2 separate regions of the Homo sapiens genome follow, and region 2 is linked to region 1. Evidence: fine-mapped expression QTL. A gene starts in region 1. The other region holds a variant in brackets. All regions are shown on one strand. Distances are between the middles of the regions. Region 1 holds the start of RAPGEF3 (Rap guanine nucleotide exchange factor 3). Region 2 overlaps RPAP3 (RNA polymerase II associated protein 3).

Evidence for each region. PIP is the estimated chance that this variant, and not a neighbour inherited with it, causes the effect.
Region 2: its variant is the best candidate, but not a certain one, in a credible set for the expression of RAPGEF3 in whole blood (TOPMed, PIP 0.85).

What each region holds. Positions count from the first base shown.
Region 1 is chr12:47,756,573-47,762,106 of GRCh38, reverse strand. It overlaps RAPGEF3 (Rap guanine nucleotide exchange factor 3), which reads left to right and starts at 3,227. Exons shown (of 28, transcript NM_001098531.4): 1 at 3,227-3,556; 2 at 4,029-4,241. The coding sequence starts at 3,551. It also overlaps a transcript of SLC48A1 not described here. RefSeq lists enhancers at 2,679-3,347, 3,348-4,016 and a silencer at 3,058-3,407.
Region 2 is chr12:47,693,829-47,698,828 of GRCh38, reverse strand. It overlaps RPAP3 (RNA polymerase II associated protein 3), which reads left to right. Exons shown (of 17, transcript NM_024604.3): 4 at 1,110-1,232; 5 at 2,426-2,553. Among named protein-coding and RNA genes, the nearest start is that of RPAP3, 9.7 kb to the left of the region's middle. The variant A/G (reference allele first, on the strand shown) is at 1,941.

The sequences.
Region 1 (5,534 bases):
CCTGCTGTTTAGTTTCCATCATCTGTACCAAGGTGTGGGCAAATGGCTGTGGATATGAGTTTTTCCCCCTTTATAGGAGCTGTCAGTATGTTTCAGAGGCAGGACTGCAGAGTGGTAAAGCACACAGGGTAGAAACCACCTGGGCAGAGTCACTCATGGCTCTACCACTTCCTAGTATGGGACCTTGGGCAAGTCATTTAACCTCTTTGTGTCTCAGGTCCCTCATCTGTAAAATGGAATAACAAAAATAACAACCTTATCTCATAGGGTTGTTGTGACAATTCAGTCAGTGAATATATACAAAGTATCAAGAACAGGGCCTGGTGCATGTTGACTATTCTTATTATTATTTATCTGTCTTAACACACCTGCCAAGCATTTAATGACAGTCAGAGGAGGGTGGAGGCGGTACCAGGACATGGCATGATTGTTACCATCTTGCTTGCATGTGTTCCTCAGACACATTCCCAGTCCTCTGCCCCTTCTAGGCCTCAGCCTTGATCAAATATCTGCTGAGCAGTAATTCTACTGTCGGGTCCCCATCCAGGGATCCTGAGAAGGCAAAAACCTGCCCCGTCATCTGCTTTGATGGCAGGCTGGGGGCCTTGCCTGTTAGAGGTAGGACAAGCTAGAAATGGGACACATAAAAGATCTACTCCCTATGATCTCCCCAGGCTAGGAGCCAATAGGTAATCACCCCAGGTCCTCTTCTCAATCTCCCCAGAGAGGGGGAATGAAAAAGAAATGGAAAAAAGAAAGGCAAGAGTAGTGTTGAAGGGGAACATAGGTGGGGGAGTGGGTTGGGACAGTTTCATTTTCACCGATTTGAGTGATCCTTGGCTCCCTGAGGCTCCCCCACACCTCAACACAAACATATTCGATTTCCCCCCTGCCTTTTTTTTTTTTTTTTGAGATGGAGTTTCGCTCTGTCGCCCAGGCTGGAGTTCAGTGGCATGATCTTGACTCACTGCAACCTTCGCCTCCCGGGTTGAAAGAATTCTCCTGCCTCAGCCTCCTGAGTAGCTGGGATTCCAGGCGCACGCCACCACGCCTGGCTAATTTTTGTATTTTTAGTAGAGACAGGGTTTCACCATGTTGGTCAGGCTAGTCTTGAACTCCTGACCTCATGATTCACCCCCACCTCAGCCTCCCAAGGTGTTGGGATTACAGGCGTGAGCCATCGCACCCGGCCTCAATTTTCCTTTTTTGAGTAGACTCTCCTAGGCAGTCTAGTCTACATTAGAAGAATAGAATACATACAGAGTATACGCAGTATACCATGGTGAGTACGTGGAGACAGACAACCTGGATTCATGCCCCAGCTCCACCATTTACTAGCTGTGTGACTTTGGCAATTTCCTTAATATCCCTGAGCCTCAGTTTCCCCATCTGTGACGTGAGGATAACAGAAGTACATACCTCACAGGATCGTGGCAGGGATTAAACACATGGAAAGCACTTGAAAGAGTGCCCGCACATGATTAGATTTTGTAGCTCTGCTGAAATGTATACAAGTGTCCTGCCTCACTCCCCAGCATCTTCCACCTGCCCAGAGTAAGGGCAGCAAGAATAGGAAATAGGGGACCCCTTTGTGACCCAACTGCCAGTCTCAGGAAGCCTTCCTGCAAGAACTTCTAGGCCAGGGCACTGGCCCCAGCAACCCGAAACTCATGACTCCATCCCCCTAACTCTTCCCCATGCATACCTGTGACTCCCAACTTGTCATCCTTTCCTGTCAGTTTCCAGGTTGCTCTTCCTTCTTCCAAATTACCAGAACTCCGTTGAATGGATTTGGGTCTGAGGTCAGATTCATTCTCAGGCTTTCCTCCTTCCCCGGAGAGGCATTTAAAACTCCACCAGCGTTTCTTAATGTGTGGACACAGCAGATGACCTGGGGTGTTTGTTCCAAATACAGATTTTCCATTTCATGCCAATAGGATTGAATATGAATTGCTGGGGACGGAGCCTGCATTTTAGTAAGCTTCTGGGAAACATTTTTTATACATGTATACATTAAAAATGGGATTTTAATCACAATTAAAATTTCTCTCCCCACTTTCAAGAAAATAATAATTGGTGGAGGATGGGGGCTTGGCATCCCAAAATTGGGAGTATAGGCTTCTTAGAGCTACCTCTTCCCAGTCTTCTCCTCACTTTCAAGAAAATAATCATGGTGGAGGATGCGGGCTTGGCATCCCAAAATTGGGGTATAGGCTTTTTAGAGATACTTCTTCCCAGTCTGGGCTGGCTCAACAGCAAAGGGAAAAGGGAAGAGAAGGGGCAAAAAGTCCTAAAAAGCTGGGGGTGGGGCGTTCACCTCCTTCCAAACCCTCATTATCGTCCTGAATTACGGGTCGCTGTCCCCGGCCACTGTCTCTCCACCCTCTCAGGAGTGGGGCGAAGAGGCCCGCGCTGGGCCATTTGCACAGTGGTGGAAACTGAGGCCCAGGGAGGCGTGGAGCCTCGGTAGCAAGCCTGCCTAGCAGGGCGCTGGAATGCCCGGTCTCCGCCTCAACCTACCCGGCCACCAGGGAGCGCGCGGTAGGGGGCGTGGTACTCGAACACCTTCTGCTCCCCTGGAAGCTCTGCCACAACCCCAATCTCCTCTTAGGGCCCCTACCCGTTCTGGAGAGCAGTCCTTCCTCTCCAGCCTCAGTTTCCTCAACTGCTCCCGGTGTGTGTGTGCTGGGGCAGGGGGCAGTGGGGCGTGGGTCTGGGAACGGAACTGTGGGAGGCAAGGCAGCGGGATTCCCCGCGGGAAAGCCGCCTATTCCCTCCCCCGGGCGGCTGGAGACCCTGAACCGAAACAGGAGGCAGACACCCCCAGCCGGGAAGCGGCCCCAGCCCGGATTTCCCTCCCGGGTGAGGCCGCAGTGACTCACCCCCTCCCCGCTCTCCCCGGTTTCCTTGTTTGCATTTCTCCTCCCGGCCACGTGGCGGCCAGTGCAGCCACTCACCGCCGGATCCCTGACACCCCGGCCGTTGCGGCCTCCTCCACACACTTCGGGGCCGCTCCTGCCCCCTGGGGATACTCTGGGCTCAGGCGGATGTCCACTCTGGTACCCCCGGGTGCGGACTCCAAAGCCTGCCAGTGCCGGCCCCCTTCCCCTACGCATTCCTCTACCGTAAGGCAGGGCGCCTCCACCCCGCCCCCTCCGCCAGTCCTGGGGAGGGGAAGGGGGCGGGCAGCGCAGGGGGTGTGACAGCTCCCGCCCGGACCGGTGCCAGCGCAGCCTTGCTTCAGCGCCCGGTGCCAGCTGGCTCCTTCGTCTGAGACGAAGGCGCAGGCTCGGGGCTCCCTGTCGCCGGTGGCTGGGTGGCGTCCCCCCACCACGCCCCCACCCCTCTACTCACCCAAGAGGAGCCTCTCCACCGAGCCCTGCATCCTGCTGCCCTGGCAGCCAGTCCAGCTAGGCACTGGCCCAGTTCACTGTACCTGGACTTACCCACTGGCACCCTCCGGATCCCCTTATCAAAGCTGATGGGGGTCGCTGGGGACCCCCCAGCCTTTTGCTAGAGCCTGCACGGCTGTGCGAGCTTGAAAAGAAACATGAAGGTGGGTAAGGTGGGGTCAGGGTTGAGGAGGAGCAGGAGAGGGCGGGAGAGGAAGCTGACACGGTGGGGAGTTTGGGTGGGAGAGGGAGGGTTAGTCAGGGCTGAGGAGGAGAGGAGAAGGGTTTAAGCCGAAGCTGCATTTCTGGGAGACCTAGTGAATCTATAGCTTCATACTGGGAGGTAGTGGAGATCCCTGCAGGGGCATGGGCAGTGAGATGGGACAGAATTCCAAAGAGGACTAAGAAGGGCCTGATCTTTTCCAAGAGCCAGCTGGAGACCCCTAAGTGCGCCAGACCGGCAGGCCCCAGTGAAGGTCTTCCTGTTCCTCCCCCCAGCTCCTGGCAGGGTTGCAGCACCTCCGCCTGACCAGTCCAGAGGACTCTAAGGAAGTAGTTCTGCCTGGGGCAGTTGTACTGTGGCCCAGCCGCCCCAGTCGTGTCCCATGGCTGTCCACTTTCCTCCCCGTGTCACAGGTGGGCTGGCCAGGTGAGAGCTGCTGGCAGGTGGGCCTGGCTGTGGAGGATAGCCCAGCTCTGGGAGCACCGCGGGTGGGAGCCCTCCCTGACGTGGTGCCGGAGGGGACACTACTCAACATGGTGTTGAGAAGGATGCACCGGCCCCGAAGCTGCTCCTACCAGCTGCTGCTGGAGCACCAGCGTCCGAGCTGCATCCAGGGGCTGCGCTGGGTGAGTACCTTTCACCTGCCCAGGTGCCAGGGCCAGTACCAGAGCTAGAGGGGGGCCTAGATCATGGCTTGGCATGCTGCTGGTGGCCCAGCTTGCTCTGGGGGTGTACAGTGGTACAGCTGCCGTGGACACTGGGTCAGGAAGCTTGTCTGCAGTGTGCGTGGGTGGCTCACACAGCTGCAACGTGTGTGTGTCTGTGTGTGTGTTCTGCCCAAATGTCTCTGTTTGGGCATGGGGGGAAGGGGAAAGGGATTTGTTGTTTATCTGTCACCTCAGTGAGCCGGCATTGAGTTAGGTACTTGTGTGTTCTTTCCAGGTGGAGGTGGGAGGTATGGGGGCCGGGTCAATGGGTTGGAGTGAGGTAAGCTTGGTTACAGTTCTGGGTGCATCACCGTGGCAACATTCTCCTTTAGTGAGTTACTGAACTGTGCTAATTCTGCGTTTTGGTCTTAGGGTGAGGTGATCATGTGGACACTGCTTGGTACCTGCCTTTGGGGGGCTCAGGGAAGGATTCTGAGACATTTGGAGAATCTGAGATCACCAAAGTGCCCTTTGCTAGTGAGAAACATCTCTGGACCTGAAAGAATGAAGGAGAGAGCAGGGAGGGGAAAGAATGGTGGGATTTGGGAGGCAAGATAATGGCTGTACTATCCAAATCAGCAGAGAAGCTATCCCCAACCATCCAGACTAAATAGAGTAGCTTAGCTTGAGATTCAGTTATGTCTCCACTGCGTGTGTCCACCCAGGTTTCGCTATGTTGCCTAGGTAGGTCTTGAACTCCTAGGCCCAAGCAATCCACCTGCCTTGGCCTCCCAAAGTGCTGGTATTACAGGCGTGACCCACTGCGCTTGGCCGGGAGAGTTCATTTCTTTTTTCTTTTCTTTCTTTTTTTTTTTTTTAACCAGAGTCTTCCTCTGTCACCAGGCTGGAGTGCAGTGAAGCAATCTTGGCTCACTACAGCCTCTGCCTCCCAGGTTCAAGTGATTCTCCTGCCTCAGCTTCCTGAGTAGCTGGGGCTACAGGTGTGCGCCACCACGCCCAGCTAATTTTTGTATTTTTAGTAGAGATGGGGTTTCACCATATTGGCCAGGATGGTCTTGATCGCTTGACCTCGTGATCTGCCCACCTCGCCCTCCCAAAGCACTGGGATTACAAGCATGAGCCATTGCGCCTAGCCGAGAGTTCACTTCTTATTGGCAAGTCCTTTTGAGTGGAATAACCACCACCCTCTCCCTCCTTCCCCCTACCTTGCCCAACTGCCATTTACAGTGAGGCTGAGTTGAAAAAACTGAG
Region 2 (5,000 bases), 63 kb after region 1:
GCTTTAATGAACTCTAATGGTCGTCACGGTGGCTTACGCCTGTAATCCCAACACTTTGGGAGGCTGAGGCGGGCAGATTGCTTGGGCTTAGGATCCAGACCAGCCTGGGCAACATGGCAAAAGCCCGTCTCTACAAAAAATAAAAAAATTAGCTGCGCATGGTGGTGCATGCCTATAGTCCCAGTTACTTGGGAGAGCGAGGTGGGAAGATGGCTGGAGCCCGGGAGATGGAGGTTGCAGTAAGCTGACATCACACTACTGCACTCCAGCCTAGGCAACAGAGCCAGATGCTGTCTCAAAAATAAAATAAAAATAAAATCTTACTAAAAATCATTGTTTTATCATATAAAAAATAAGAGGAAAATTCTGGTGGAGGTCTATGAAATTATTTATTACCATGAAAGTAGTGTGAGTCAAAAGAGATTGAGAATCGTGGGACTAGCACATTTTTTATTTTTCCTTTAGTAGAGGCAGCTATATGTTGGAATACACCGAGAGACAGTATAACATATCGATTGAGGGCTCTTGGAGGAAGTAGACTTGGTCACTTACTAGCTGAGTGACCTTGAATGAGTTAACTAACTTCTGCATTTCAGTTCCCTCAAGTGAAAAACATGGGTAATTATACCTTCCTCATAGGTTATTGTGAAGATTAGGAGTTAATGTGCTCTTTTTTTTGTTCGTTTTAAAATAGCAGTTTTAAAATAGCAGTTTTTTGTTTTAAAATAAGGAAGAAAAAAATTTTTTTTTAAACTTTTTCTGCTACTGGGTGCTAATTATATTAGTTTAGGGCTATTTGCAAACTTCCTTTAAGCCATAAGACCTAACTGCTAATAGTTCGTGATTTAGGGGTGATTTGTACAATCTGTTGACTTAGCTTTATGAGTTCAAAGTCAGATTTTTGGTTTTGATCTTGGTTTTCTAAGCTAAGGCATCTTTTTCTCTGGATATAATCTTAACAATGAGAGATTTGGGTTGCTTTGTAAGGCTGTAGGTCCTTAGATTGTAACAATTTACATTCATTTGAGTGTATTTTTTTAGTATGTCTTTTTTTCTTTTTTTTCCTAATCATATAATTATGACCCCTGTTTTCCGTCTTTTGATTTTAGGACCGTATCCTTGATGAGCTTGACAAAGACGATAGTACCCATGAGTCTCTGTCTCAAGAATCAGAGTCGGAAGAAGATGGGATTCATGTAGATTCACAAAAGGCTCTTGTTTTAAAAGAAAAGGTACTAATTAGTTAGGTTTTGTTTTTTTTCATGTAAGCAGGAGATGTTGAAAATCATGTGGATCGTAAAGTTTCTTGAGCATAGTTTTAGTACGTGTTTAAACTTTATGTTGTTTTTGGCTACATCCCTCTCTGGAGGCATTGTAACATGGTGGTTAGGAGTACATGCTCTGGAGCCAGATTACCTGGGTTCAAATCTCTGATAAGTTCTTTAAACTTCTGAACTTCAGTTTTCTCATCTGCAAAATGATAATATTACCAACCTCAACGGGTTCTTATGGGTAGTAAGTGAACTATTCTATGTAAAATGCTTGGACTGTACCTGGAGTTGTCCAGTGTTTTTAGTAGTAGATTGAAGTAACTTGAAATTAGTGTGTGATTCTTGGCGTAAATATTATATTCCACTCCCGGGTATCAAAGGCTATCTTTGGTTACTTTTTGGAATGTTCAGTATCTCCCTGAGGGATGCCTCATTATTATAAAACCAGCTATATTACTTTCACAAAGGTGGAACTCTTTTCAGATTAAACTCTTGATGCTTTTTTTTGGTTACATTTCTGTAGGTTGGCATTGTCAATAAGGAGTATAATGCTGGGTATTTTACTCATTTTTCTGCCTGGGCTCTTGGGTTGTACCCATACAGTGACCATGTACAGTTACCCTTGAACAGTGTGGGGTCAGTGCCTCATGCAGTAAAAAATCTGCATAT[A/G]ACTTTTGACTCCCCAAAAACTTAACTACTAATAGCTTACTGTTGACCGGAAGCAGTATGGATAATACAAATAGTTGATTAGCACAAATTTTATGCGTTATATGTATTATATACTGTATTCTTACAAAAAAGTAAGCTAGAGAAAAGAAAATGTTATTAGAACATTTTAAGGAAGAGAATGTGTATTTATTTATATAAATATATTTCACTGTGTAGAAGTGGATCTAAAGTCTTCATCTTTGTCATCTTCATATTGAGTAGGCTGAGGAGGGGGAAGGGGAGGAGTTGGTCTTGCTCTCTCGGGTGGCAGAGGCAGAAGAGGTGGAAAAGGTGGAAGGGGAGGCAGGCACACTTGGTGTAGACTTCTATTGAAAAAAATCTACATTTAAGTGGACCCATGCACTTCAAACCTGGGTCGTTCAAGGGTCAACTGTAGTGAATTTCAGAATTTGTAAAAAAGATCATTTTATATAATTTTCTTTCAGGGCAATAAATACTTCAAACAAGGAAAATATGATGAAGCAATTGACTGCTACACAAAAGGCATGGATGCCGATCCATATAATCCCGTGTTGCCAACGAACAGAGCGTCAGCATATTTTAGACTGAAAAAGTAAGGACTTTCTGTGACGTGTGTGAATGTGAATGTCTTATGTATATATGGAGACTTATTAAAAAAAAGTGTGGAATAAAGTGTGGAGGACAGATTGAAAATGTATTGCATTTTCTTTTCAACTGTAAATTCTTATAGCTCACTCCTTTTTATTGAATTATTTTGTTTAAGCCATTTTAAACATCTGGTGCTAAAACCTTGTTCCCATAGCTCACTTTACTGAGGTATTCCTCTAAAGATTTAGTAATAGTGTTCTTTTCTAATTCACAAAGCTAAAAAAGTTAGTTGGATATTTTTAGAAATTAATATCCTGTCATTTTGAAAAACCATTTATCCACTATTTAATCTAGAGAACATTTATTATGGAAAACTTAAAATATGTTTCAACATTTGTTTGTCTTTAAGTCATACTGACTTTTAAAGTAAATAATGTGGAAGAATATAAATGTGGTATTGTCTTATCACATGCAGGTAACCAACCTATCATAGGGGTTTTTTAAAAAGATAAACACCATCAAGGAAGACATTCTTACTGTTTTAATTATTTGGAAATACAAATTTTATTGGTATCTGAATTTTTACTATTTAACATTTTTATGTCTTTGAAACTCATGATATTAATCTCTAAAAATTAGGGGAATATTTACATTTTATAATATTCGATATCTGCAATATATGTAGCATATACATAAATTACAGAGAATAGTTTAAAATAAGCCTATAAAGCACCCCTCTCAACTTAAGAACCAGAACATTACCATTATTTTTGAAGTTACCTTGATGCTCCTTTCTGTATCCTGTCCCTTGCCTCCCTCCCAGTTAACCACTATCTTGAATTATATATTTGTCATCCTTTTGATTTAAAAAAGGTTTATTATATATGTATATGTTCCTAAATAATATATAGTATAATCTTGCTTATTTTTGAGCTTAAAAGTATATCATACTGTGTGTAGTTTTCTGTGGCTCACCTATTTATTATATTTTTATGATTCATTCTTGTTTTGATGCTTATAGCTCTAGAGCTCTCATTGTAACTGTTATATAGGATAATTTCTTTTTAGAAATATACCATTATGTGTCTATTCTTGTGTTGCTGGATTGTTGGTTCGTTCCTTTCTTCCTTTCTTTTTCTCTCTCCCTCCCACTCTTTCTTCCCTCCTTCTGTCCCTCTTTCTTTCTATTGCCCACCTTCTGTCCTTTCTTTCCTTATTTCAGCAATGCTATGAACATTTTTGTACATGTTTCTTGGTGTTGGGTCATAAAATGTGTAGATGTTCAGCTTCACAGGATGATGGCAAAGGTAGTTTGTTGTTACACAGTTGTTACAAAGGTAAATGGATGAGTTTACATTCTCATTAGCAGTGTATAATAATACCTATTTCCTACCCTTACCAACATTGATATAATTGGGCTTCTTAATTGTTTTCAATCTGGTGGGTGTAAAATGGCATTTCATTGTGTCTTTGAAATGACATTTTGCATTTCTCAGCTATTAGTAAGGTTTTCATTTCTCAACTATTAGTAAGGTTAAGCATCTTATATATTTTCCATTTTTGTTTTTTTCTTTTTTTTCCCTGTGAAATGCCTATTTGGTGTTTGGCCATTTTTTTTTTTAGGGCTTTTCCTATTGATTTATTTTGAGAGTTCTTTATTCTGGATAACTAATCTTTTGGTCTTTTCCATAATAACTATCTTCTCTCAATTTGTAGCTTATCTTCTTTATGGAATTTTAATGAATAGAAACATTCAATTTTAATATATTTCAACTTCTTGATTTTTTAAAAAGATTAGGACTTTATAAAATGATTTGTTCAAAAAAATAGTTTGCTGCTTGAGTTCCTAATAGTCTCCTCTAATTTCTTCTAAACATTTTTAAGATTTACTTTTCACATTTAGGTGTTTTCACATATGCTGAAGGTTTTTCCAGCTCTATTTTTGGAATAGCCCTACTTTCCCCCGTGGATCTGCCGTGCTACTATTGTCATATGTCATGTTTGCCGAGATCACTTTCTCATCTCTGTTCTTTACACTGGTCTGTTGCCTGTCCTTACATCCATTCCACACTATCTTTAATTATTATAGCATTGTAATTGTAAGTCTTAATATTTAGTGTACTGCATATTCTCCTACCTTTTATTATTCAGGAATGTCTTGGGTATTCTTGGACTTTTACTCATCAATATAACTTTTAGAATCATCTTCCCAAATTCGTTAAAATATCCTGTTGGGATTTTGATTAGAATTGCATTAGATTTATAAATCAGTCTGGAGAGAATCATATTGTATGTTTTTGTACTTTATTATAGATGAATGTGAAATATCTCCACTTAGATTGTCATTAATGTCTTTGAAAACAGTCTTACAATTTTTTGCATCTGTGTTTGGTAGGTCTTTGTTAGATGTTTTGTTTGTTTGTCTCTTGTTGGTCTCTCGTAGTCACCTTA